Linked DNA regions of Homo sapiens. The protein of the gene in region 2 purifies or fractionates together with the protein of the main gene of each other region. This does not show direct contact. Each region holds a gene or a part of one and is shown on either strand. Other genes may lie near its edges. The genes, in order: LSS, PNKD, CIP2A and DIAPH3.

Region 1 (6,962 bases), on a different chromosome or scaffold from region 2:
GTTTGATTCATCATTTGAATGAGAATAGAATTTTAGATTGGAAATCGTTCCTTTGTGTTTTTGCTTTTTTTGTTGCTGGAAATTTTTGAGATCATCTCTATTCCTGGTGTTCTCAAATTTCTCAATGACATTACTTCATATGTTGCCTCCCCATTCCCTCCCCAACCCCTGCCCAATTTATTGTGCTGGGCACTTTGTAGTCCTTTTTTCTAGTTTTTTTGTTGCTATTGAACAAATTACCCCAAATATAGTAGCTTAAATTTGAGGAGGATTCAGCTGGGCAGCTTTCTGTTGGGATCTCTCATGCAGCTGCAGTCAGGTATTGGCTGAGGTTATAGTCATCTGAAGGCTTGACTGGGTCAGTGGTCCAAGATGGATCACTTGCATGGCTGGAGGTAATGTTGCACTGTTTTCCCCAAATGTCTGGCTCATGCTGATGATGGTGCTTGTTGGAAACTGTCAATGGGTACAGTCTGCCAGCTAATAGGTTTGTTTTTCTACTAGGTCATAGTTGCCAGTGTTTGCAGGACTCTTGTGGGCCAGCTGCTCCAGAGGGATCCTCCCACTATCTCATGCTATCTGGCTAAGTGGGAGAAGTGAGCCTGGACCCACATGTGTAGACTTTAACTCAATCTGTCTGCTTTCAGTGGTCCTCAGCTATGCCTCATGCCTGAGGTAACACCTACTCTGATTCAACTACTGGAGACTTCCTCCACCCAAGTAGGAGAGGGGATCTATGGTCATACTGTTCCTCACAAAAATTTTCCACCAGTTATTCCAATTTCTGCACCTTCCTGGTATTTGCTGGCAGGAATGGTCTCTTGTTGGCTTCACCCACAAACGTAAGTCTCAACTTTCTCTAGCTAACTCAGTTATCACTTCTCCATCCATTCCCAGTCTCTATAATTTTGTTGACTTCTCTTGCTTACTAGTGTCTCCTCTCCCATTCTTTGTGGGGTTTTTTTGGTCTTTTATTACTTTATGTGAGTAGGGTTTGGGCAGGAAATGGAGGTTAATGTTTATGCTCAGTCTGCCATGTTTAACTGAAAATTTCTTTCAAAATTCTGCCATTAGGCTTTTCCCCCCATGTCTCTTTAGATAGCTCTTGTCAGTCACCAATACATTGTTTTGTTGCATCCAATAATAAATTCTGTCTTCATTTTGCAATCCCTTCAAAGCCTCAGCAAAGATCACCATGTCTTCACTTATATTATGACTTCATATTCCTCTGGTTTTCCTCCTCTCTCTGGCCATTCCTCTATACTGGAAAAGGTCGGTGCCCCAGGGCTCATTCTAGAACTTCTCTTTTTTATGTGCATTTCCTAATTCATCTTGTCCAATCTCATGATTTCAAATACTACCTGAAAGCAAATGACTCCCAAATTCCTATCTCTAGCATTATGTTCTCTCCTGAATGCCAGCCTACTCAATATTTCACTTGAATGTCTAATAAGCATCTCTAGTATAACTTGTCCCCACTTTAATCTGAATTTTCCAATCAAACTTTCCCTATTTTAGGCCAGGTGTGGTGGCTCATGCCTATAATCCCAACACTTTGGGAGGCTGAAGTGGGAGGATTCCTTGTGGCCAGGAGTTTGAGACCATCCTGGGCAACATAGCGAGACCCCGTGTCTCTACCAAACTTTAAAAAAATCAGCCAGGTGTGGTGGCACACGCCTGTAGTCCCAGCTATTCAGGAGGCTGAGCCCGGAAGATCACTTAGCCCTGGAATTTGAGGCTGCAGTGAGCTAATGATTGTGCCACTGCATTCCCACCTGGGTGACAGACTGAGATCCTGTCACTAAATAAATAAAAGACACCTCTATTTTAGTAAATGACCACCACCATATACCCAGTTGTTGAGGCCAAAATCCTCAGAGCCTTCTGTATCTGGCTTAATGAATAAGCTGGATGCAGTAGTATGTAAGCAGATAGGAACAGTGTTTTTTCTCATGACTGCCCCTAGAAGCTTAACTGTGTCAATTCTCAGACGTAGTTTACAGCTTTTTCTTTTCTTTCAGACATTAAAAAGAGCGGATTATTTTACTCATAAAAAGTCCAGTCCATTAAGATATCAAAACTCAAACTCTTATCCAGTTGAAACCTCTTCCCTCACCTAGCTTTGCCAGGTTCAGTGTGAGATTCCATCCAGGCTGAAGCCCCTTATCCCTATTCTTCATGTTTCTACATGGAGGAACTTACCTGGAGAAAAACTTCCAGCCTCTTTCTGCTTCCAGAGAAGTAGAGTGACTCATTTGATTGAATTTCAGAGAACAGATAGGGTGGAGTGTGCTCAGGCTCCTCTGGGTACTCTTTCTGGGGTCTGTGGGTTGACTGGAGGGGTGTCTTCTGGTGGGCACTCAATTGCATAGTGCTTGGTGAGGCAGTTTCATGGCCTAGAGGCTGGGGGATATGTTTGTCTGACTTAACGGGTGATTTAGTAGCTTGCCCTCTTGCTTGCAGATTTAAGCCTTGTCCTTCAAGCTAGGTTTTTAATTTGTGGCAAAGCTGATATTTTGATACCCACCCATCTTATTGCTGTGTCTTTTTCATCCGTTTCTGAACTGGGATAGGAAGAGGTGATTATCCTTGATTGTCTAAAACCCCGCTATTCCACTGTGGGGAAGGTGCCTGTGGGTATTCTTTTGTCCACTCTCTCTTCCAACTTTCTCCTCCGGCTTGCTGTGGCTCACCGCCCCTTCGAAGTTAGGCTGGGGGTAGGAATTGAGGAGTGGGTGCCGAAATGCTCACTAGGCTGGGGCAGTTGTAACTGGATGTCAGGGCTTCTGTGGGCCAGGTGAAGACATGCTGGGGTCTTCTGTGGGTCCTTGACCTGACTTACGGACCACTGGCTGCAGCCTCCAGACGTCAGCCATGTTTCCAACAGTCAGACGCCCCCTGCCCTGTTGCGCCCGGCTGTCCCTTCCAAGTTCGGTCACTCGCTCTGCCTCCATCTTCCTCTTCCCTCTGCTGCTAAGGCTTTTCACCTTTAATTTCTCCTGGGGCCACCCCCAACTCCAGCGACCCCGTGAGCAGCTGAGGCTCTACCGCGCTCGGTCCTGGCCAGCGACGCAGCCCTTCCCTGGCGGGGCTCCAGGGCTTCTGGCCCCTGTGGTCCGCCAGGTGTGGGGGCCCACGGCCTCACCGCGCCTACCCCACTCCCCCCGGCGAAGCTACGCGGCGCTCAGCTTCCCAGGGACGCCGGCGGCGCCCTCGGCTCCTCCGCTCCGCCCCGCCCTCCCCCTGGTCTCGCACTGGAGCCGACGGCCCGCGCCCACCTCACCTCAGGGCGGCCTCCCGCCCCCACCCCCGGCCCCGGCGTCCGGGCAAATCCTGCAGCGCGAGAGCAATTCCCTGCCACCCGACCTTCGCACTCGCTGTCGCTCGCTCGAGCCTCGCTCCCCACGTCCTTCCTTCCGACCCGCGGCTGGACCCTCCTCACAAATTTCTCAGAGAGGCTCACCTCAAAGCGCGGCGCACGAGGCCGGGCTCCCGGGACGCAAGCCTCTAGAGGGCGCGCGAGAGGCCCCGCCCCCGCCCTTCGGCCCCACCCACCAGCCCCGCCCCCACCCGCACCCACCAGGCCCCGCCCCCACCTCCCCACCCACCAGCCCCGCCCCCACCTCCCCACCCACCAGCCCCGCCCCTCATGCCCCGCCAATAAGGCCCCACCCGCCTCCCCCGTCCCGTCGCCTTCACCCACCATCCCCGCTCCCTCAGGCCCCGCCCCACGCCGCATGGGGCACCAAGCGCTCCACCACTGTGGTCGCCTGGCACACCCCGGGGTCACGCTCGCGGCGCTCTGATTGGTTGCGTGGGCGTCGGCCCACCTAAGCCTGAGCGCCTGCCGAGGCCTGCGCCTGCGTAGTGCGCGCGGGAGGGGCGGGAGGGGCGGGAGGGGCGGGAGGGGCGGGGCTGGGCGGCAGGTCCCGGGTGCGGACATCTGGCAGCTGGCAGTGGGCGGCGTAGAGCACTGCAGCAGCAATGACGGAGGGCACGTGAGTCCCCTCGCCCCGGGCTCCTGACGAATGCGGGGTGGTCCTAGGTGCTGAGGAGAGCGCGACTGGGGCAGTGGGCCGGCGGCCGGCGTTGGGGCGGGGCCTGGGTCGCTGATGGCCGGTGGTCCTCAGGTGTCTGCGGCGCCGAGGGGGCCCCTACAAGACCGAGCCCGCCACCGACCTCGGCCGCTGGCGACTCAACTGCGAGAGGGGCCGGCAGACGTGGACCTACCTGCAGGACGAGCGCGCCGGCCGCGAGCAGACCGGCCTGGAAGCCTACGCCCTGGGGCTGGACACCGTAAGTTGCTTCCGCGGAGCGTCAGCGAGCTCGGGACCCTGAGGGGTGAGCCGTGAGGAGCACGTTTTCTCTCAGAAAGGCGGGTGGGAGGACCCGGCCAGCGACGCCCATCCCCAAGGCGAGCGCCCACGGGAACTGCGTTCGCGGGCCCCTCCGCTTCAGCCCCTTCATCTCTAAACCACGCATAGGAGACTCCTAATGTTTTATTTTTTAGCACCTTATTTTGAGATAATTTTTGACTTATAGGAGAGTTGCAAAGATAGTTGTAACTTTGTTTTTATTCACAAAAAGTGTTTGGATCCACTGTCTTAGTTGTGTGCATTGTAAGAGATTTTGGTCGTCAGAGTCTGCAGTGTAAACAGGGTCTCCTGCCGAGCCCCGGCCACCGAGGGAAAGGCTGTGCCGCCCCTTGGGCCCTCTTTGAGAGGCCCGAGTCCCAGGCCCAGGTCGGCACCCGTGCCCCACCCTACAGTCTGGGTGCCTGGTTTATTCCAGACATCTTGGAGAAGTTGTGAAGAATACATGACTGGCAAATAAAGCAACGAAAATGTGCAGCTGTTCTTTTACTTTGCTGAGGTGTGATGCTCTCATCAAAGAGTTTCAGACTTTTGATGGAAACAGCTGAAACTTTTAAAGTAATTTACATTCACTGTTTTGACTTGGGCTGTATGTGAAGAGGGTTCCTCTGGCCGGGCAACAGTCCCGTCAGCTATCTCTTTTTTTTTTTTTCGATCTCTTTGCAGAAGAATTACTTTAAGGACTTGCCCAAAGCCCACACCGCCTTTGAGGGGGCTCTGAACGGGATGACATTTTACGTGGGGCTGCAGGCTGAGGATGGGCACTGGACGGGTGATTATGGTGGCCCACTTTTCCTCCTGCCAGGTAGGAGTATGCTGCCCCAGCCTGATGGTATGGCCACCCTGGATCACCCTTGGGATCCTGGCCCAGCCTGGTCTAGGGTTTTGATGAAGCAGGTGAAAATCCAGGGGCTCACAAGAAAAGGGCTGGCAAACTCTGCCCTATGTCAGAGTCGTCCTGCTATTGGTCTAGGGGATCAGCTAGCCTTGCCAGTGTAGGGTGACAGGCTCTCTGATAAGAGAAGCAAGTGGTTCTCTAGGGCTCTGTGTTGCCTTGAGGGAGGAGGAAGGTGGGCTTTGAAGTCTCAGTACAGGATGGGATGGACATTCCAGGTGGAAGGCCCAGCCTATGCCAAGGGGCTGTAGGTGGGCAGAGTGGTGGGTGGGGAGCTGATATCTGCTGTGAACTTCCTCGGGGCTATTGCAGGAGAGCTTCAGGTTCAGGCTGGTGAGTAGGAGGAGCATAGCAGTTGGACTGCCTGGGTATTGAACTGATTTGGCTACACAAGACTATTTTGCATCCTGGGAGTGTTTCTCTACAGAAATCCTCAGCCTTGTAAAATGGGAAATTCCCTCCTATGAATTTATGCAATAGGACTTTTTTCCCTAGTGACTTGTAATCACATTGTTTCAATGACGTGAATTCCTACATAAATAGGTTTTGTTTCTGTGATAACTCTTACTGATACATCATTTTCTTTTACTACGCTGACTTTGTAATAGATAGAAAGTCCTTATATACCTTTGTTGCCTTTCTTTTTAAAACATCTCTTACCTGTGTCTATTCATTTACTCATCCAAATTGCCTTTATCCTGATTTTGTCCCAGACTTGAAATGAAGTTGCAATAGGCTTATATGTTAGTTTGGGAAGAGTTGGCCTTTAACGTTAAAAACAGTTCCATGGTGTTTACTGTAGGCCAAGCCCTGCTCAAGGCCTGTTCTTCTTTTAGTCCTTAGAATAAGCCTAATGAGATACATTAGAAAGCTGAGGCACATTTATTCCAGGTAACCAGACTAGCAGGAGGAGCACTGGGATCCCCATCTCTGCTTTGACTTCTAGCCCTGCTGCCACCTGGACTGTACAGCATTGAGTTTTTCTGTCCTGGGATTTGAGGGCCTGTCCTTAGGGGAAGTCAAGGTGCTCTTCTTCCCTTGGCCCCATCAGGGCCTGTTTAGACTGTTCTCAGGGCTCGTGGTAAGGCAATGACATAGAGTTGGTCAGGAGATGGGTCAGCCCCACTTTGCCTCTGTAGCCTGACCTGTGACAGGATTGGAATCAGGTTTGGTCATGTGCACAGTGTCAGGCATGCAGTGGTGCTTGGTCAGTGGGGATTACTGTGTTGTTTGTTCTTGCTGCTTTGGCTCTGGGCTTAGCTGGCTGGGACCCTTCCTGTGGGCTGGCTGTGAGTTGGAGTTTTTTTGTATTTTTTTTTTTTTTTTGAGACAGCGTTCGCTCTTGTTCCCCAGGCTGGAGTGCAATGGCACAATTTTGGCTCGTTGCAGCCTCTGCCTCCTGGGTCCAAGTGATTCTCCTGCCTCAGCCTCCTGTAGGGTCCAGCCCCACAGGGTCGGTAGGTTTTTCTCCCTGTGTGCGGAGATGAGAGATTGTAGAAATAAAGACACAAGACAGAGAGATGAAAGAAAAGACAGCTGGGCCCGGGGGACCACTACCACCAAGACGTGGAAACCGGTAGTGGCCCTGAATGCCAGGCTGCGCTGATATTTATTGGATACAAGACAAAGGGGCAGGGTAAGGAGTGTGAGCCATCTCCAATGATAGGTAAGGTCACATGGGTCACGTGTCCACT
Region 2 (7,139 bases):
GGCAACAAGAGTGAAACTCTGTCTCAAAAAAAAAAAAAAAAAATAAGTAAAAAAAAATCCAAAAAAAAAAAAAAAACACAAAAAGTAACTGGGCATGGTGGCACTCACCTGGGGTCCCAGCTACTCAGGAGGCTGAGGTAGGAGGATCACTTGAGCCCAGGAGGTGGAGGTTGCAGTGAGCTGACGATCACAACACTGCACTCCAGCCTGGGTAACAGAGCGAGACTCCGTCTCAAAAAACAAAAAACAAAAAACAAAACAAATGAGGAAACTGAGGCCCAGAGTCGAGTCATTTGGACTCAGTAAAGAGCAGTGCTTTTTTTTGCCTCCACACCCTGAATACCTTCTTTGATTCTCTTTATTGTTTCAAGGCTGAGCGGGACCCCACCCTCCTGGCCGGCAGCTCTGAGGGCTTGGTCCCGAGGGCCCGGGGCCTAGGCTGGTTGCACTTAAGTCTCTGGGTTTGCCCCACCATCCAGCTGGGAACACTGAGCTCTGTGAGAGGGAGCACACATGAGTAACCAGCCCCACCCTCTGCCCCTCCCATCCCAAGGGACTCACAAACCCAGACCTGGTTCCTTTCTACTAAACACTCAATAACTTTATTTGCCTTTGGCTGGCTCCTTGGTGTGGGGCAGGGTAGGGTTTGGCAACAGCCTGGGCTTCATGCGCCCTCTGGTGGACCTCAGAGGCACGAACTGGAATCTGGGCCAAACCTGAGGACTTAACAGTCAATAGCCTAGGAGGGTCGCAGCGCTCCTCAGGTCTGCACCCCAGACCCAACATCAGGGGACGGGGCACTCTGGGAGGAAGCCCTGAACCTCTGGCTCTCATACTCGCCCGTGTTGGACAACCGCATGTTCTGCCGAGCCTTCATCTGCTTCACACGGTCCTTGTCCACTTCCCGCTTGGTGAGGATGAAGAGGAGGATACCACAAGGGAAGCCGATGGCCCTACGGGTGGGGAGATGTGCACGGGGTTTGGGGAGGGGCCAAGCCTGAGCCAGAGGAGCTGGGGGGAGTCATTCTAGCTTCATCAGTTGCATGAATGCTGCAATACCTCTTATAGTCTATTCATCCTCTGTGCTGGCTGCTGGAGGGACCCACACAAATCAGATCCTGTCACTTCCCTGCTTAAAACCCCGTAACTCCATCACTTCCTGGCCAAGTCCAAACATGGCACAAAAGGCCCAGTGTGGCTGGGTCTCTGCCTGCCTCTTTCCTCCTCCCGCCTAGAGCCTGATCCTCAGCACGAGCCCTGCATTCCTGCAACAGCACCTGTGCAGGATTTTCCAGGCAGCCCTGACGCTTTCCCTCTCTGAGACTTGGCCAAGGTACCCTCCCAGTTTTCCCCTCTTAAGCTAAGTAACCACTGCTTGGGAGGCACTTTGGTATGGGGGAAAGAGCATGGAGTCACAGACTAGGTGAGAATCCTAGCTCAGTCTCAGTTCCTTCCTCTGTGAAATGGGGATGTAATACTTATCTCAAACACTAAAACATTACATGGCAAAGTACTGGCACACCTCACATGCAGAAAAAAATGTTGATTTCTTCCTCCTTTCTCTTTAATATTGGTCAATAATATGTATTAAGGTCAGAGTCAGAGCCCAATCACAATGTTCATAACGCCTTCTGAGTACTACTATACAACTAGTACAAGCTCACATGATCTCAACGAACTACTTACTTAAACTTGGGTCTCACTCCAAGCTCCCAAAAGGGAGGATGAGGCCAGGGACCCAAGTCTGAATCAGATCAACTCAGCTTACTCCACAGTAAACCCACTGTCTTCTCAATTCCACATACTTTCCCACCTCCACTGCCCCACCCCTCTGAGATTCCAATCGAACCCAACAATTCTGTTCCCACAACTTTGGATTCAGCTCGCCACCTGAAACTTGGAGAAGTTTCTAAGTCCTGCCCTCCCCTACAAGCCACGCCCCGTTGGTGGGCAAAGGGGTGGTTAAAACTCACCAGGCCAGTCCCACAGCTTTCATGGGGTTCTTGCCCCTCTTTCTGGGAATGTATTCCAGCTCCGGGGATAGGGGTTCAGGTTCCTCCTTGCCCTCTGGGGAGCTGTGGCTTTGCAGGGCCCGGGTCCTGTTATGAGAAGCCTTGTTAGCTGTGGCTCCTGCGAGAATCCCTGTGGATGGAGGTAAGGAAGGTCAGTAAGAAGAGATGAGAAGAAAGCAAGCGGGGAGGTGGGGGGCAGTAAGGGCTTGGGAGGAGCGGCTGAGATCTGGGGAAGGGGAGTGACTGCAGTCTGAAGTAAGAAGTGCCAAGGAGAATCCAAAGGGAAATGGGAAAATCGCCACCGAGGTGGCACCTTTGGAAGCCACTTCCACGTCACTGCGGGCTCATCACCCTGGTGCCAGGACGAAAAGCTTCGCTGTTCTTCCTCAGACGACAGCATGGGAAGGACTGCAGTGGGACTCACATAAGACGTATGAAGGAAATCCGGGAAAAGGTTTTGAAACTGCAAATGTTAGCACTGGAAGGGACCTTAAAGATAGTCTACTCCATCCCTTGCACTGTACGGAAGAGGAAACTGAAGCCCTGAGAGAAAAACTGCTTTGCCCAAGGTCAAACTGCTAATTATCCGGGGCTGGAACTCAAACCTCCAGAAGCCCGGGGCTCTTTCCTCTGCACTGCGGTGAGTGTGAAACACCTGGAGCGCGGGAGTCCAACAGGCTTCCTAGGAGCTCCCTCTTGCAGCAAGACCCCGGAGGTGTCGAGCAACCCGAAGGCGGGGGGATGCACTGGGTGACCTCTAAAGAGCATCTCTGCACCCCCAGACTCTAAGATCTTGCAGAAAAGTGTGGGGAGGAACCAAGAGCCCTGACCTCCTGCTATCGTCGGGCTGGACGTGAAAGAAAAGGGATCTTCTGCAGTCCTGCCCTCCCCGGGGTCCCTCTCCTTACCCCGGAGGACGCGGGCATTTCTCGCCCCCCGGCCCTTCAGCGCCGTAGCAGCTACCACCGCCGCCATGTTCAGATCCCACCCCCGCTTCACCGCGCTCCCCGCCGGGAATTGTAGTTTGCGTAAGGGGCCTCCCCCGCTCCTTCCGTCCTGCCTACAGACCAGAAACTACATCTCCCAGAAGCCCGCAGAGCGGACCCAGGAGAACTACTCTTCCCAGGAGACCCCGGAGGCGCGCGCGCTCGCTTGTTTCCCTCCAGTTGGGGGCGGAGTCAGGTGGGGCGGAGTTTGGGTTCTCTCCGCCACGCCCCGGCCCCATCTTCCAATGCCGCTCTGTGATTGGTGAGGCGGCCAGCCAACCTTCGTAGCTATTGGCCGAACGGCCGTCGCTCTTCCTGCTGGGGAGTCGCCTACGCCTACTTCCTGCCGGGAGGAGGGGCTCGAGTTCCGCGTCGTCGCGCAGAGCTGACTCTGGGAGGCGTTTGGGCCCAGAGAAGTGGATCCGCCGCTTGCGCCGCATGGAGTCCGAATCGGAAAGCGGGGCTGCTGCTGACACCCCCCCACTGGAGACCCTAAGCTTCCATGGTGATGAAGAGATTATCGAGGTGGTAGAACTTGATCCCGGTCCGCCGGACCCAGGTGAGAACTGCCGCTCCTCAGGCCATGGGACAGGAGACGCTCACCCCTGGCCTCTGACTCCTGCTTTTCCCCGCTCCCCTCCACACCCGACTGGTCATTCCTACCGATATCCCTCTTCCCCTCCTCCCCCACTCCCACCCTCACACTTAGTTCTCAGGCCTGGCTGGGGTGGGGGTTCCCTGACGCCTCCTCTGGCCCTTCCCCTCACACACCCCCTTCCCATCATCCCCTTGGCCCTCCCTTACCGCACGGTCTCTGGCCAGCCGTGGCCTCCCGTCCTGTGTCCCGCGCGCCCCCGCGGACCCCGGTGTGTCTGACTCCACCTTCCCTTCTCGCCACATGACCCGCCCCAGCCTCAGGCCTCCTCATGCTTCTCTCCGTACCTCTTACCGCCTCCCGAGCCCCATCTTCTAACCCTCTCCCCAAAGCAGATGACCTGGCCCAGGAGATGGAAGATGTGGACTTTGAGGAAGAAGAGGAGGAAGAGGGCAACGAAGAGGGCTGGGTTCTAGAACCCCAGGAAGGGGTGGTCGGCAGCATGGAGGGCCCCGACGATAGCGAGGTCACCTTTGCATTGCACTCAGGTAGGTCTTTGAGGCGATCCACCTCAAATCAGTTTAGGTGGGCGTGTAAGCATTAAACATCAGCCATGGACAGAACGTTATGGGGGACACAGAGATGGGCAAGATGCTGGCCTTGCGCTGGAGGAGCCCACAGGTGGGAAAGTGTGGCAGAATGGATGATTGCTTGGCTTCTGGCATCAGTCGAGACACCCTCTACTTTGCCAGTTAACCTTGATTAACCTCTTAGTTTTCTTTTAAAAAGTTATCTTTGGCCGGGCGTGGTGGCTCACTCCTGAAATCCCAGCACTTTAGGAGGCTGAGGCAGGTGGATCACTTGAGGTCAGGAGTTCGAGACCAGCCTGGCCAACATGGCAAAACCCAGTCTCTACTAAAAATACAAAAATTTGGCTGGGCATGGTGGCTCACGCCTGTAATCCCAGCACTTTAGGAGGCCCAGGCAGGCGGATCACAAGGTCGGGAGTTCCAGACCAGCCTGGCCAATATGGTGAAACCCCGTCTCTACTAAAAATACAAAAATTAGCTGGGCGTGGTAGCGGGCGCCTGTAGTCCCAGCTCCTCGGGAGGTTGAGGCAGGAGAATTGCTTGAACCCGGGAGGCGGAGGTTGCAGTGGACCAAGACTGCGCCATTGCACTCCAGCCTGGGCAACAGAATGAGAGTCTGTCTCCAAAAAAAAAAAAAAAAAAAAAGTTATCTTTGATAAAAGTTAATAAAAGTAGTGAGTATAAAATTAGAGATAATTGGCCAGGTGCGGTGGCTCATGCCTGTAATCACAGCACTTTGGAAGGCCAAGGCGGGTGGATCACCTGAGGTCGGGAGTTCAAGACCAGCCTGGCCGACATGGTGAAACCTCATCTCTACTAAAAATAAAAAAAAAATTAGCTGGGTGTGGTGGCATGTGCCTGTAATCCCAGCTACTCCGGAGGCTGAGGAAGGAGAATCACTTGAACCTGGGAGGCAGAGGTTGCATTGAGCTGAGATTGTGCCACTGCGCTTCGGCCTGGGCGACAGAGCAAGATTCCATCTCAAAAAAATAAAATAAAATGAGAGATAATTATATCTTTTTGAGCATATTTTATATAACTTTCTCAAGTGCTAGTTCTTAGTAAGAAACTGTTGCCAGGCACGGTGGCTCATGCCTGTAATCCCAGCACTTTGGGAGGCCGAGGCGGGTGGATCAGAAGGTTAGGAGTTCGAGACCAGCCTGACCAACATGATGAAACCCCATCTCTACTAAAAATACAAAAATTAGCTGGTTGTGGTGGCGGGCGCCTGTAATCCCAGCTACTCAGGGGGCTGAGGCAGGAGAATTGCTTGAACCTGGGAGGTGGAGGTTGCAGTGAGCTGAGATTGTGCCACTGCACTCCAGCCTGGGCGACAGAGCAAGACTCTGTCTCAAAAAACAAAAAACAAAAAACAAAAAACCCTTAACGTGATGCTCTCCTCGCTCTGTACCCAACCCCGGTGGCATCCCATGCTGACAACTGTAAGCCCTGCACCTGTCCCCACCTCTTGTCCATGGCATTGGTGTTGGGTGGTGACGGGAGTCACACAGTGAGGGGATCTACTCTGGCAAATAGGGAGCTTGGCAAATATGGGAAGGATCTAACAACCCAATTCTTGAAACTTAGAAGAACTTGGATGTACCTGTGTTTTCCAGGAGGAAAGACACGCTTTGGGTGAAAGGGGGTGGGTTTCCTGAAGATTGTGAAGGACAGAGCCCTAGGTGGGAGCTCTGTCCCCTTACCCATGGAATATCTCTTGGGACAGCATCTGTGTTTTGTGTGAGCCTGGACCCCAAGACCAATACCTTGGCAGTGACCGGGGGTGAAGATGACAAAGCCTTCGTATGGCGGCTCAGCGATGGGGAGCTGCTCTTTGAGTGTGCAGGTGAGGGGGCTGGGGTAGAGGCCTGGGAGAGGTCATATTCTTTTGGGAGATCTTAGGAGGCTGACCTGCAGAGGTTGTGCATCCAACAGCCACTTAGTGACATCTCTTTTGTGCCAGCTCTGTGCTGGGCCCCAGGGACACGGGGCGAATACTAGTGTGTTTTGGGCACAGAGGCAGGAGGCACTAATTGGCCAAGGGAATCCAGGAAAGGCCAGAGAAGGCCACATTGGTATAGGAGCAGGCGGGCAGAGGTGTAGAGTGGACAGAAGGGGGAAGGCATAGGAGGCTGGGACTTGGTCTGGTTGAGTGAGGGCCAGCAGTGTCTCCCAGCAGACATGGGAGTATTGGTTCCTAGAGTGGTGGTGAGTTCCAGCACCTGTTCTGCTCAGTCCCGCCCCTCTTTTTTTCCTAGCTGGTCCTTTCAGTGGGCCAGATACCAGAATCACATGCCCCCAGCACCAGGTACCCTATTTTTTTCCTCTGTTTTCTGCCCACTTTTCTTTGAAGGCCATAAAGACTCTGTGACTTGTGCTGGTTTCAGCCATGACTCCACTCTAGTGGCCACAGGGGACATGAGTGGCCTCTTGAAAGTGTGGCAGGTGGACACTAAGGAGGAGGTCTGGTCCTTTGAAGCGGGAGACCTGGAGGTAAGATCATCAGAGCGGGAGTCAGCTCTGTGGGGCCTTGGGTTGTTGGGGGTGCAAGCTTGGGAGGCCAGTTCTGCCTTTATTGCGCCAAGCCAGCTCTGAGCCAATGCGCCCCAAGGCACAGGAAGAATATCTACCTGCTACCTGGAAAGTCCCCGCGGAACCCCAGAGGCAGGAAACCTTGGGTGGAGCTCATGGGGCAGGCTTCTAGGTGGGATGGGGTGACGGGCCTCCCTGCTGCCCCTTCCTCCCTGTCCAGTGGATGGAGTGGCATCCTCGGGCACCTGTCCTGTTGGCGGGCACAGCTGACGGCAACACCTGGATGTGGAAAGTCCCGAATGGTGACTGCAAGACCTTCCAGGGTCCCAACTGCCCAGCCACCTGTGGCCGAGTCCTCCCTGATGGTGAGAGCACCTCCCTTGAGTGACCTTTCCTGGGTGCAGAGGCCGAATCCCGGGATATA
Region 3 (7,025 bases), on a different chromosome or scaffold from region 2:
TTACTGCAGTAAGTTCACTCTTAAGGTATACATTATATATGTACATAATACAATGCCAAATTTACTGAGCACCTATTATGTGCCAAGTGCTATGCTAGGGCCTGGAGCTATAGAAGCAGTCTTTGATACCATGAGTGAGGGAAAAAAGAATTTCCACGTGGTTTGAAAAATGTTATTAAGAGATAAGCGTAGGTTTGATACACAGAGGAAGGATCGTCAAACACGTGTGGGAAGGAGACCAGAGTAGGCTTCTGGGTAATGAGGATATTTTAACTGAAATCTGAAGGATTATGAGTTAGGCAGAAGAGAGGAAATGGTGTTCCAGACATGGAAAGTCAAGTGCCACGACAAGGAAATACGAGAATATGTCAAGTTTCAGAAAAAGCAAAGTGGCCTAACATGGCTGACTGCAAAGAATGCGCAGAAATGAAAGATGTGGATTGAGGCCTATATAGTTAGAATCCTTATATGCCAAACTAAAGAATTTTAATGATATTTGAAAGCAATAGCAGCTACTGTGAAAGATACTCAGCACAAGAGGGACAGGATCATTTTACTGCCTTAGAGATCCTTGGGGGAGCGGCTAGGTGAAGGGGGTAGAACCAAGGAAAGATGACTGGCTGTAGAGTATCTGAGAAGAGGGTAGAAGACTACAGGTAGGAAGACTAATTGCTCTGCTATGATTCATACAAAAAATGAAAAGGATCCAGCCTATAACAAATAGTGGTAGAAGCAGAGATAGGGCAGAAAAGAGTAATATTTAGAAGGTAGAATCAACTGGACTTGGTGAATAATTATAGGAGGTAAAAACTGTGATTTCCAGGGTTCTTATTTGTAGAACACTAAAAACAGAAGAGGGAATACATAAGAATAATTTTAAAAAGGGAAGGGTGATTAGTTCATTATTGGTTATGCTGAGTTTGTGGTATTTGCTGTATATTTAAATGGAGCAACATAGGCACATAGTGCTCAGGAAAATGATCTGTGCTTGACATATAAAATTAGGAACATTACTATTTTGGTAACCATTGAAACCACAGAACACATAACTAAAGGAAAAAGGTTTAGAATATAAGTCCCAGAGTCCCCAACACTTAAAGGTACAAAATAAATAACATAGGAAAATAATACAAGGTAGCAAAAAAAAATCAGGTAACGATGTAACCAAAATTAAAGAGGACAGAATTTCAGGAAGAAGGAAGGAGGCATGTCAAATGCTAAGGAGAATTTACTTCAATTAGAGTAACAAATACATAACTAATATTTTGCATGTTTTACTTATTAATTTTTCTACAAATCAGATGTGTCTTTATATTCTACACACCTCTGTTTCAGCTTGAGTTCTTTGACAGCGATGCTGAGCAATCAGTCTATCAGCCTGTGCAAGGGCTAGAGCTTTTGTTTCCAAAAGATCTTGTAGCCTGCTTTCTTTGGACTACAAGAAAACATATCATTAATTTTCATTTTAGGAATACATCTATTAAAGCTTATTACACATTGTTAAAATAAGCTTATACTCACAGCTAATGTGGATAGTTTCATTTCATATACATCCATTATGTCAGATATTCTCACATCACAAATCTGATCCTTTACCTACATTTTAAGAGTAAAAAAACTTAAAATTTTAATAAAATATTTTGACACAATGACAAAATAAATGCCTACTTCAAAACTAAATCATTAAAACTTAATGATGAGTAACAAAATAAAAACAAATGCTACATCAGGTAAGTCACAAATATTTCTTTTTTTTTTTTGAGATGGGTCTCACTGTCACCCAGGTTGGAGTGAAGTGGTATGATCTTGGCTCACTGCAACCTCTGCCTCCTGGGTTCAAGTGATTCTCCTGCCTCAGCCTTCAGAGTAGCTGAGACAACAGGCATGAGCCAACACGTCCAGCTAATTTTTTGTATTTTTAATAGAGACGGGGTTTCGCCATATTGCCCAAGCTGGTCTTGAACTCCTCAGCTCTGGCAATCTACCCTCCTTGGCCTCCCAAAATGCTGGGATTACAGGCGTAAGCCACCGCACCCGGCAAAATGTTGAAATTTTGACTGATTTTTCTTATTTCCAAATTTTCCAGAATATTGTTATTTCTTATATTAAGGTTTCAATAGTGAAATCTGTACCTGACAGTGTTTAGATACACGTTATAATTGGGACTGACATATAGCTAATATGTACCAGGTTATAATTGCTATTTTTTCACTCACCACCATTCCAGACTGAAGTTTCTCTATTAATTCTTCAATATTCAATCCAGGAACACCATCTTTCAAATGAGGAGTTAAACACTTTATTGATGTTGGAAAACTGTGATTTGATGATTGCCAGGGCATTTTTCTGGGTATATGTTCTGTTTCCTGTTGTCTATAGGCATTGTTTGCTGCTATACTTTCTCCAAGTCTGAATGGGAGTCAAAGAAAGGAAAAAAAAATTATACGAAAATAGAAGAAAAGGCAGACTTAGTGCAGAATTAGGGAATTTTTAAGAATGGGTCCTTTTTTTGAATAGAAGTCTTCAAATAATCTTGGAGACCATGATGAAATGAAGTCTTGGGAAATATTCTGAATTTTCCAGAGCACCCACTTTTCTGTTTCTAACCTTTTATAATGACAGCTTCACCTCTGGTTTGGAGGCATTGTAAGACTAGTTTATGAGTGTGGATTATCTGTAATAAGTACAAAGTTATTGGTACTGGTCAGAATAATGTTCTTATCATGGGTGATATCACCTGGCCTTTACGTCCTTAGTCCTTTTCCTTTCTCACTCAGTACATACTTTTCACCAACCTGACTTCCATTCTAACCCTTTAAAATCCTCTCTTTCTCCTACCTCAGGCCTTCATATGAGCTGTTCCTTTATCTGGAACACGCTTTCTACCACAAAACAAAATATTTTTTTCACTTATCTCTTAACTAAAGTGCAAACTGCAAGATGGCAGGCACTCAGCCTAATTTATTATAGGCTGGGCATGGTGGCTCACACCTGTAACCGCAGCACTTTGGGAGGATCACTTGAGTCCAAGAGTTCGAGACAAGCCTGGGCAACCTGGTGAGACCCCTCTATAAAAAAATAAATTAATTAAGCAGTTGTGGTGGCACAAGCCTGTGGTCCCCGCTACTCAGGGGGTTGAGTTGGGAATATCACTTGAGCCCCAGAGGTCGAAGCTGCAGTGAGTCATGATCACACCACTGCACCCCAGTCTGGGTGATAGAGTGAGACCCTGTCTCGAAAACAAACAAGTAAATACACACACACAAAAACCCTACCTACCAATGCATCCATAATATACATTCAGTTTATTAAACGCCCAAGATAATGTCAAATAAGGGCATTAAATAGTAAGCATAAAATGGACATCTGAGATAATGCCCAAAGAGAAAATTATTTACAACACAAATAAGACAGGGAATGCCAAGACACAGTCAAAATGGTGGGAAGGCCTCACACACAGAGGCAGAGGATAAGACTTCCATGTTCAGTGAGGCTGCAGATTCCCCTTTGAAGCTCTTAAGGTTTTGTTTCATGTCAGATTACCAGTTTATGCAAGCAGGCCATCACAAAATAGAGCAGCTTTACAGACCACTTTTAACTTGTAACTTGAAAAGCTTCCTGTGTATTTTTGTTGTTGCTGTTAAAAAAATATTTATTATAAAATTAAGGGAATTTTGGTTATATGTTCTCTAGGTCTTACATCCCATACTTTAACTCTTAAGGTATGATGACCTAAATTGCTAATTCTGAAAAGTGGAATCGCTAAATCAGTGAATAGCATATAGCATGGACCAGCACTTTTTCTTATAGGTCAAGATAGTAAGTATTTTAGACTCAAGGACCTATCTGGTCTCTGTCACAATTACTCAATTCTGCTTTTATAGAGTGAAAGCAACATAGACAGAGTATAAAAATGAGTGGGTGTGGCCATATTCCAATAAAACTATTTACAAAAACAGATGCCTGTCCACTGGCCAGTTTGCTGATCCCGGTATACAGGGAATATCTTACCTGTTTATCAACTACTTCAAATTATTCAAACCATTTTTACAAATTCATACATATAAATGACTTAAAAAAATTTTAAACCAGACTCCTAATAGACATTTAGTTCAGAGAGCCCTGAAATCTGAATTTTTTTTCAAACATAATTGCAAATATTCTTATTGCTTGAAAGTAACGAGTATAGTAGAAAATTTTGCCTGGTTGTCATTTTTCCACTTTCTGATAAAAGTTCAGATTTTTTTCTTTAGGAACTCTCCTATTCTCCTATCCCAACTAACTTTTAGTCCACATCGTTCTCATGGATAACCCAGGCCTGGTCAATGACTAATGCTTAGACCTTTTCCTTAAACAGTCAGGAAGGAAAAGCTCTTTCTATGGAGGAACTAAACTGGGAGGATGTAGGCTTAAGAGTGTCCAGAAGTTATCATTAAAAAGAAGTGGCTAGAGACATAGAGGGATAGTACCTGAAGAACATTTAACTGCCTGGATCTAGCTTTTCCCTGAGTGAGTATACATCTGAACTTTTCATTTATAAGAATCAAACATTTTTAGAAATCACTTGAAAAATTACTATTACAATGAAGTCTTCAATTCACTAATTTGCTTGTGTATCTATACTGAGGACTAAAGAGACATAGCAGGGTATTCCAACACCACAAGAGATACACTGCAAATGATTACAACTCACACTAAAGCAGGAAAATCTGGCAGTGGAGCAGCCTCCAATAATATTCTCAGTCCAGACTGTACTTGTTCTCTATTATCTGACGTTAAAGCAAAAGCCAAAGGAGTAATCAAACGTGGGTCCTAAATAAATCAGAAACCAAAAAAGAAGCAGCAGAAAGAATAAACAATGTCAGCTCTTTTAGATAGGAGGTGAGTAAATATATGTAAATCTTAATTCTAGGCAAATTCTAAAATGTTTCTAATGTTTGAATATATTATAGTCTATATAGTTTGAATATATTATACCTTGTTATAGCTGTTTACACTGCAATGCAATCAATATGAACAGTTTAAAAAAATCTGGCAAAGGTTTTGAATGCTTTCAAATGTGCCTATAAAAATTATGCCTTATATATTTTCGTGGATTAAAAAACCCACAACTGACTGATGTGTAGAATTAATGTTTTTTTCCAAGCTATCATTTAAAAGAAAAAAATGGCCAATCACTTCCAAATTAAGGCTATAAAATAAAAAGTAAAATTCAAATTAAATTAGAACATTTAAATTTAAAGATCGAAAAAATACAGTTACTTCAATCATTTATGTCAGTAAATATTTTACATTAGTATTGTAAGCCCCAAGTCATCAACATATATCTAAAATGTCTGGGACCAGAAGTGTTTCAAATTTCTGATTTTTTTCAGATTTTAGAATATTTACATGTACTTACTGGTTGGGCATCCCTAATCCAAAAACCCAAAATGCTTCAGTGAGCACTTCCTTTGAGTATCACCTTTGAGCCTCATTTTGGTACTTAAAACGTTTTGTTTTTTGGAGCATTTCAGATTTCAGATTTTCAAATTAGGGATGCTCAACCTGTATTATGAAAAACATCTTAAATAATGGACATAACATCAGTTTGACTCCTTTAAAAATACATTGAGATATTAGTGAAGAAAATATTAAAATATAAATCCCTTATAATTAAAATATTGAGTACCTTGTAGGTACTTGAGTATAATCCAGTGTCACAGAACTGTGATAAGAGCAGAGCTTTATCTCCAAAACCCTCAATGGTAAGCCTCATTATTTCCAGTTTGTAGTCGAGGAAATTGAAGTCGAGAGAGGTGAAATAACTTACTCAAGCCTGTACTAAGAACCAGTAGAGTCAACATTTGAACTCAGTCCCTTAATCTCAAAACATGCCAGTGGTCCCTGCCTAAGGTTTCAGTTTTGGCTTCTACACTGTCTATACAGTCACTAGAGATGTCTCTGTTAAGCTACTGCAGTAATTTAATTCACTCATTTTTGTTAAACATCTGTTGTAAAGGTAGGTGTTGTAGATATTATTACACAAAGTTTTTAAGAGGCTAATATTTTGGAGTAGTCTCCTCCACTATGCTTTAGCAGACCAGATCAAACCAGAAAGGAGTCACTTGGATGAGTGCCATGTAATCAAACTGCACTTTGAAATGGGCCAGTTTTCCAAAAAACCAGGAGATTTCAGTCAACCTGAGTTAGTATAATAAGGAAGCCCCCTTTATTATAATTCTATAGGAAAAGTAACTTTGAAATGACCAATCTGCTTTTAGTTCCCTATTTGTGCTTTCTTCAGCCCTTTTCTGGTCTATAAAGTCAACCTTCTCTGCTTAGCCCAGGGGAATGATTCATTCTATTTTATAGAATGAGGCTGCCAAATTCTAGAATCATAAATAAAAGCCAGTTAGAACTTTGAACTAAATTTGTTGTACTTTGCCTTTTGATAACAGCTAGAGATCATATTCAGCTACTATTATCATTGAAATTTGTGAGTTAGCTATTTTCTGCACAGCCCTTCTAATTATCACAATCCTTTTCTTCCAGCTGTCTCCCTATCCCCTTAATACCCTACATCAACCCTAACCAAAAACAAAAACCCTAAAACAAATATCACTCTTCCTCCAATGCCAACAGAAACAAATGAAGAAATATACAAATACAACACAAGAAAGGAAAAGGCTGAGGAAGCAGCACTATTGTGAACATTCTCTACATTAGTGTCATGAGCACTTATGTTCAATTCCTGTGAAAGTATATAAAATAACTGTGCAGTGAGACTATTATAACTGCTTAAGACAACAACTTTAAACTTTCTTCTCATTGCCAATTCTAAGAGAATTATCTTCTAAAGATTAAGAATATTAAAACAGAAACTTATATTAGGACCATTTATGTATGAATAAACTTCAATGTTTGAAGAGTTTAAACTCACCTGAAGTATTTTGTAGAAGCTTACTTCCATACCAGGAACCAATGGTTTAAGTTTGTTAATCAAATCAAGAGTTTTCAAAATTACATCAGCAGCAAGTTTGCTT
Region 4 (6,845 bases), on a different chromosome or scaffold from region 2:
ACTTGAAGCCCGCAACTATACATTTGGTAGAAAACAAGAATTTGCCAACTTTAACAGGACTCAAAGTAAAACAAGATTTCAGCGGGTACCAGAGCTCCTGCTTTCTTACACTAAGATAGGAGGGAGTGACCAGTCTACCACTCCATTCTACTACTCGCTTGCTGCTTTGCAGAAGTGTGCAAAACACTGGCCACCTAAATTACTCCTATCCATCACATCACCAACCTATATTACTTGTTCCCATCAAAAACAGCTGCCCCAGGCTCAGATAATGACTGGGTGACCTGAAAAGATTTAGGATAACGTCACTTCATCCAATCAAGAAAAAGCCAAGAACTAACTTGACATCTGCAAGAACAGTGACTGACTTGACACCTACAAGTACAATTACTTTCTGAGGCATTGCTGGGAACTTTGATGGTCTCAAAGATCCCTCTCCATCCAAAAAACAAGAGTTACTGGTGTGCAATCAAGAGCAGTGAAAGGTAGGCAAACTGGGAAGAGCTGCTCAGGAAGCAGTCTTGAGACTGGGATACTGAACTTTAGTACAGGAACAGAGTAGAGCTGTGCCTGGAACTTCTGCCCATGTTAAGATTTCCAGTTCAACAGGAAGGTGGTCCAAAATCAGTAGCATGCCCAGGCTCCTTGGCAGACAAACTCAAACTATCTCCAAAGAAAAGCATCTCTGGAATCCTACAGGTGAAGATAAAGCAATGAGCTTACAAAGATAAATACACACAAGAAAGAGAGCAAGCCATCATGAATCTGAGTCAATGTAGACAGCCCAGGTTGCAAACAGCAGAACTGTCAAATAAAGAATAAGAACAATCAAGTAGGAAATGTCTAAAGAAATAAATGAATAAGAAACAAAGGACTATCAAGAATGCCCAGACAGATTTGAAAAATAAGCAAATGGAACTTATTAAAATAAAAAATAATTGCTAAAATCAAATATTCAGAAAAGTAGCAGATTAGACATAGCTGATAACAAAATTAATGAACTGGAAGATATAACTAAAGAAATTACCATATAAGCAAGAACCTAAATTAGTTTCAAAGTACCAAGAGTCCAAATTACTTCTAAATTAACTGGAAGTCATGATTCATACCAGACTCCCACCCAAAAACACAGTGTTTTAGATGTGTTTTTTACCTTTACAGCTTAAGAGTGTTATCTTTTAGATGTCATTTCATCTTTATGAGAATCCATTTAACAAATGGCATGCTGAGATGGTCAATGTGACATACATAAGAATGAAAAACAGCACAGAGACTGGAAACCAAATGATGAAATCCTTCAATGAAACTTAACATAAATACTAATTTAGATCCTGTTTTCATGACCTCCTTGCTGGGAATGAGTCACAGAAAATAACACCTCCTGTATTCTGGACCACAGAAGTTAAAACAAAATAAAATAAGATTATTAACCCAGAGAGTAGACTATAAAAGGAAGAAAAGTCATTGCCTTAGTGGATTCTTCTCACATTAGGCAAAAATCTTTCATTGGGAAGTTAACTCTGTCCTATTCATTCTTCAGATTTGTCAAGATAATGATCAAGTCCATACTTGATCCTTCTGCAAAATGTCACTATTCCTATGACCATTTTGATACTTAATTTGGCATAATTAATCTATGCTGTTCCTCATTTTCAATTAATCTATGCTGTTTCTCATTTTCAGTATTCTGATATATCTCATGTATCAGAATATGGGCTCTCAGTCTTATTCAACTATTATTTTTAACTAAATGTTATAGTTAGCAACTGGTTCACAAACCATTATTCCCTTAATTTGTGAATCATGACTTAAATTTCTCACAATTTTTACTTGCCCACATAAGGCAAATGCTGTACTCTCTCTCTCTCTCTCTCTCTCTCTCACACACACACACACACACACACACACACACACACAGTTTTTCCATATTCCTAAGGAAAATGGTGGAGTGGTCAATGTGAAATTTCAATTCTGTTGGACTCATCCCAAATCTATCAACCCTCTATGTGATTTATTTACACACACAAACCCCAAAATAATCATCACTGCCTATACTTTCACTAGTTGACACCAACGAAAAGACAAGGTGTTAATCATGACACTTTCCTTAAGTGTTAAACACAAGCAAACCAGAATAGCAAGTTTCAAATATTTAGAATTCTTTCCAAGCTAAGCAAAACATTCTTTAGCAGTGACCACACCACCCGCCAAGTTCTAAAACTAGCTGTTTCAACTTGGAAAATTATATCTACCTTAAAAGTTCTTATATGTAATTAAAAGTTCTTATTAAAATAATAAGCAGAAAAAAAACCTGTCACCTAAAAGTTCATTTTGATATATCTTATACCCTCTTACACTAGGGAGGAAGGGAGAACTTCGACTTAAAAAATGCAATGTCCACCTAGATGACGTCAATACATATACACGTTTGAACTGCTTTTCACATCAGCGTTAAGAAATTTGGGGGCAACACAAAGATCTGGGCATTTGTCACAGGATCCAACTACAACTAGACCCGGTCGTTGTCAATCTATGATCTTTGGCACCTCTGGATCTCTAGAATAAAACTTGGTCCCCAAGTTCTTGTGGGCCCACCCTCGGCAGTCAGCCCTACGGCGGGGCGGGAGCGGCCCCACCCTAGCTCCAGGCGATACTCACAAACTTGGGGCGCTTCTCCCCAGGCTCCTCGGGGCCACTGGGCGGCGGAGGGTGTTGGGGGCCCTTCCTGCGCGGCATCTTGCTTTCCCGGCAGCCGCGGAGAGAGGCTGAGGAAGGGTAGGGAGTCCCAGCGGCTGAGCCTTGGGCCGGGTGGTGCAGCCGCGGCTGGTGCCGTTCCATCTTTCCCCGCAGCTCCGGGGACCGGAAAGAAGGTGGCCACTCAGCAAGCCGCAAGCTGGAAGCTGAGGGATCGACAACAGGTTTTACTCCCGGGGTCCGCCACCCAAACAGTCAGCACAGCCTAGCCCAACCGCTGAAGTCGGGGCCGCAGCCAACACATCTGAAAACTCCCGCCACCCGTGTTGGCCCGGGACTGGCCAATCCCGCGCCGCCGGATCAATGACACGCTGAGGCACCGCCCCTTCCGGGCACTGCGAAACATGATTGGCCTTGCGGCCTGTCTATGCAGCCGCTCAACCCTTCCGGCGGTCCAGGCCGCTCACCTTAAGGACGCAGAGTGGCGTCAGATTTGGAGAAGCGCCGGGGACCGTGGAGGAAGTCATCGGCCTGGATTTCTTTGGATTTGCAGATAGGGTTCCAGCAGAACTGGAAGGTGGGCGAGACAGGCCCTGCGCCACCATTTGAGCAGCGCTGGGATATAAAACCATCTGCTAGCCCTCTCCTTGCACGTCTGGGGCTGGAAAAAGTAGTTCTGGGACTGGGTACGGTGCTGGAAGGGGTACTAGGCAGGATGAAACGACGGGGCCCACGACGCTCCAAAAGGAAGCCTTCTGGACATATTTCCTGCCTAAGTGCTCGCTCTGGGGTGGCAGAGGGGTCCACCCAAAATCAGACAGAGCTAGGCTAGGCTGAGCCCTTCAGGAGCTCACAGTCTCCTGTAGTTTCCAAACCCTAACACAATTAACCAAGGAATGTAAATGTCTATAGCAGTTGTTTTAGAAGTTCCTTGAGAACAAAAAGGGAAGTTATTAAATCTGAAGGAGTGGATCTGGAAAGGTAAAAGGAAAGCTGCATAGGTTTTCACTAGGCAGGAAACAGTGGCAGGGCATTCATTTAAAAGGCATTCCATTCCAGGCAGGAGCAAGGCCAAGAAAGCATAGAGGTGAAGAAACTTTAAGGTCACATAACAAAGGGCCTTGAACTGAAACCATGCAAAAGAGTTTGTTGTGTAAACCCAAGGTCAAGCTACAAGGCAAACACCGTTTTCTCAACACATCAATATACCCTCTTTAAAAATGAGCTTTTCCTTGGAACTATTCCTTTAAGATATCTGTCTTCTGATTATATGGAGGTGGTGTAGGCCAAGACTCGGAAACATGCAGTATTGATTTTGGTACAAGAAACAACTCTAGGTACTCTGAGGAGTTTGGCACAGAGGTTCAAAAAATGAGCCTTAGTTCTCAGTAAGTCTTCACACTACAGCTTTTCTTTTTTAATATTTGTTTTACTGTGCCAGACTCTACAGCTCTGTCCTCAAAGAGCACATAATCTTTAGGGAAACTTACAGGAGAACAGCAAGGTCAGGAGAACTACAAGTAGTTCCTTATATCTTGATGACAGACCCAGATACAGATTTTATTCCTGCCATTTACTAGCTATTTGATACCGGAGATGACGTTTAACTTTCTTTGCTGCTTCATCTACAAAAGGGGGGTAATTATACTAATACCTATGAAAGAGGGGCATTTTCAGGCCTAAATAACATAGCATATGTAAAGCCCTTAGAGTTTTGTCAATGCTCCTACAGGAATACTGTAGTTGAAGAAGTTGGGATTATTACTCAGGGAGGGAGAACATGCACTATGGGGAGCCATGAAGTGTCTTAGGTAAATGGTATTAGAAAGCACTTAAAGGATTTGGGCTTTGATTAGGTGATTTGGGAAAGACTCCGTGGAAAGAGGTGGGAAGGGTTGCTCAAGATTAAGTGCCTTCAGGAAGTGGAGACAGTTCAGTGATTATCTTATCTAGGAGGATGGCAGGCTAAAAGACAAGCCTAAAGCTGTAACTGACAAGCATTAGTCATCCATATCATGGAGAGAGGGGAATGTTTGATTTTGAAAGACAAAACAAATTAAAGATCTAATTGGCTTTTATTTGCAATTCCAGAATAGGCAAAACTTCATTCTCTAAAATAGAATCTGTTCCAATGAGCTAAGCAGAGGAGGTTGGCTTTATAGGCAGAAAAAAGCTAGAGAACAGAAATAAGGAATGAGAAGCAGATGAGTTGTTTCAAAGTTACTTTCCTTATAGGGTTAAAACAGGGGAACTTTCTTAGCATACCAGCTCAGATAAACTTGGCCCCTTCTGATTGGGTGCTATGAATTTCCTGCTTTTTGGAAAACTGGCTGGTTTCAGAGTTGCTTTTGATTATGTGGCAATACGCATGAGGGACCATTCTGCTTTGGTCTGGTCTGCCGGAGCCTAGTGCAGCAGATTAGTCCAAAACTAAGGTTAGTCTATAATCATTTCCCATGAATTTATTTAACATTGATATTTTCTGATTTGCATACTGACCTTGTTATTGTCTGTGCTTAGACAAAACATGGAAGTGATCTTGTTTTGTCTCACTTCATCATGGTCACAGAGTGACCCTGTCTGATATTGCTGTTCTGTGAGATGCTGTTCATCAGGAGAACAACATGGCCTAGCTATGAGTGTCAGGCCAGTTTCTAAAAACACTGAGGCTTAGCTATAAGTGTCAAACTAGTTCCCTGATGTCAGGGACTGCTCCTTTCTTTCTCATGTCTTTGCCACATAGAAGGTACTAAATATAAGTAAACAGGAGCCATGATAATTAATTTTCAAGTTTACGTACAGCACTCTGAATTTTTTCTCATAGAAATGCACTGGAACTTCAGTGTACTAGTGAAAATATCTTTGTATAAGTTTTATGTTTTTTAAAGTACATTTTATATGTGTGCCCCAACATACTTAAACCTCATAACAGCATGCACTGACCCTCATTTTGATCACCCAGCGAGATGATACACCCCAGTGAGTCAATAGTCATGGAAATAGAAAGTTGAAGGTGAAAAAAAAGGCCTGGAAAAGCTTGGAATCTAGGAATATATTTCTTCCCTTTATCATTTCTGTTCAGTGTCAACATCCAGAAAATTATTAATGCCTTTCTTTTGATGGCTCACTCTTATGGACCATATGAGAAAGTTGTTGAAAGCTGAGGGAAGGAAGTGATTATCCTTAATCAATTTTTTTAAATGAGATGTCATTTACCCTCATTAAATTGGCAAATACTACAAAGTTCCATGTTTCCAAGTTTGGGCCAAGTTGGGAATTCCTAGATAGATAGTGGAAGTGCAAAACAGGTATAGGCACTTTGGACAAAAACTTGGTAATACCTAGTAAAGGTGAAGGTATGTGTACCTATGACCCTGCAATTCCATGTCTAGATGTCTCCCTGGAAAAGCCCAAACATACACCTACAAAGATATTTCTTGAACACTTCTGCCATATTATGATTATCTATATATGTATATATATATAGATACAGATTTTCACCCATGGTTCCTAGTTCATAAGTTTCATAACTCTTGTTACAGCCTTTTGTTATAATGTGAGAGTGCTTTAGGCCTCAGAAGTAGGCCTCAGGGAACAGAATCTCTCTCTGGGAACTTCTGCTCTCCTTTCACCTGCCCAAGACAGGAATCTAATCTGATGGTGGGTCATAAGACCCTCAGGCCAGAGAGAGTCCTGCCCCACGCTCTAGAGAAAGGAATGCTGCACAGAGAGACCAGGAAAATCTGAACAGAACAGACAGGCCTTGCTGGGTTTAGAGCATACCCTTTTGTGCAATCACATTTCGACACAATTATCCATGCTTCAATCATGAACAACCAATGAAGTCTACATAAAACGCAGGGTTCAGAGAGCTGAACACATGGAGGCTGACAGGAAGGTGAACAGGAACTCATCCACATTCTGGGAGGGTGGTGCACTTCAACTCCACAGGGATAGAAGCTCATTCAGGGCCCTTCCAGACCTCACCCTAGGTATCTTGTCATCTGGCTGTTTATCTATATCCTTTAAAATCTCCTTCATGATAAACCAGAAAATGTGTTTCCTGAGTTCTTTGTGCCTCTCTCCAAATTAATCCAGCCCAAAGAAGGTATAATGGAAACCCCTGCTTGAAGCCAGTGGATCAGAAGTGC

Evidence for each region.
Region 1: the proteins of PNKD (region 2) and LSS purify together in Homo sapiens (affinity purification with mass spectrometry; 3 studies listed by BioGRID and IntAct, with this or other methods). This does not show direct contact.
Region 3: the proteins of PNKD (region 2) and CIP2A purify together in Homo sapiens (affinity purification with mass spectrometry; 2 studies listed by BioGRID and IntAct, with this or other methods). This does not show direct contact.
Region 4: the proteins of PNKD (region 2) and DIAPH3 purify together in Homo sapiens (affinity purification with mass spectrometry; 2 studies listed by BioGRID and IntAct, with this or other methods). This does not show direct contact.

The regions. Positions count from the first base shown.
Region 1 is NC_000021.9:46,225,768-46,232,729, reverse strand, and holds the start of LSS (lanosterol synthase), read left to right. Parts: upstream 1-3,955; 5' UTR 3,956-3,984; coding exon 3,985-3,998; exon of another isoform or gene 3,999-4,130; coding exon 4,131-4,296; intron 4,297-5,039; coding exon 5,040-5,178; intron 5,179-6,962. UniProt on the Homo sapiens protein: Key enzyme in the cholesterol biosynthesis pathway. Catalyzes the cyclization of (S)-2,3 oxidosqualene to lanosterol, a reaction that forms the sterol nucleus.
Region 2 is NC_000002.12:218,266,384-218,273,522, reverse strand, and holds the start of PNKD (probable thioesterase PNKD isoform 1 precursor), read right to left. Parts: upstream 3,005-7,139; 5' UTR 2,988-3,004; coding exon 2,921-2,987; intron 2,143-2,920; coding exon 1,974-2,142; intron 954-1,973; coding exon of another isoform or gene 761-953; exon of another isoform or gene 576-760; intron 1-575. Other genes in the region: AAMP (angio-associated migratory cell protein), read left to right, coding at 3,437-3,557, 3,986-4,141, 5,910-6,029, 6,537-6,676, 6,936-7,080. UniProt on the Homo sapiens protein: Probable thioesterase that may play a role in cellular detoxification processes; it likely acts on a yet-unknown alpha-hydroxythioester substrate.
Region 3 is NC_000003.12:108,558,433-108,565,457, forward strand, and holds part of CIP2A (protein CIP2A), read right to left. Parts: intron 7,023-7,025; coding exon 6,923-7,022; intron 4,813-6,922; coding exon 4,694-4,812; intron 2,410-4,693; coding exon 2,217-2,409; intron 1,597-2,216; coding exon 1,522-1,596; intron 1,436-1,521; coding exon 1,325-1,435; intron 1-1,324.
Region 4 is NC_000013.11:60,160,929-60,167,773, forward strand, and holds the start of DIAPH3 (protein diaphanous homolog 3), read right to left. Parts: upstream 3,001-6,845; 5' UTR 2,839-3,000; coding exon 2,659-2,838; intron 1-2,658. UniProt on the Homo sapiens protein: Actin nucleation and elongation factor required for the assembly of F-actin structures, such as actin cables and stress fibers. Required for cytokinesis, stress fiber formation and transcriptional activation of the serum response factor.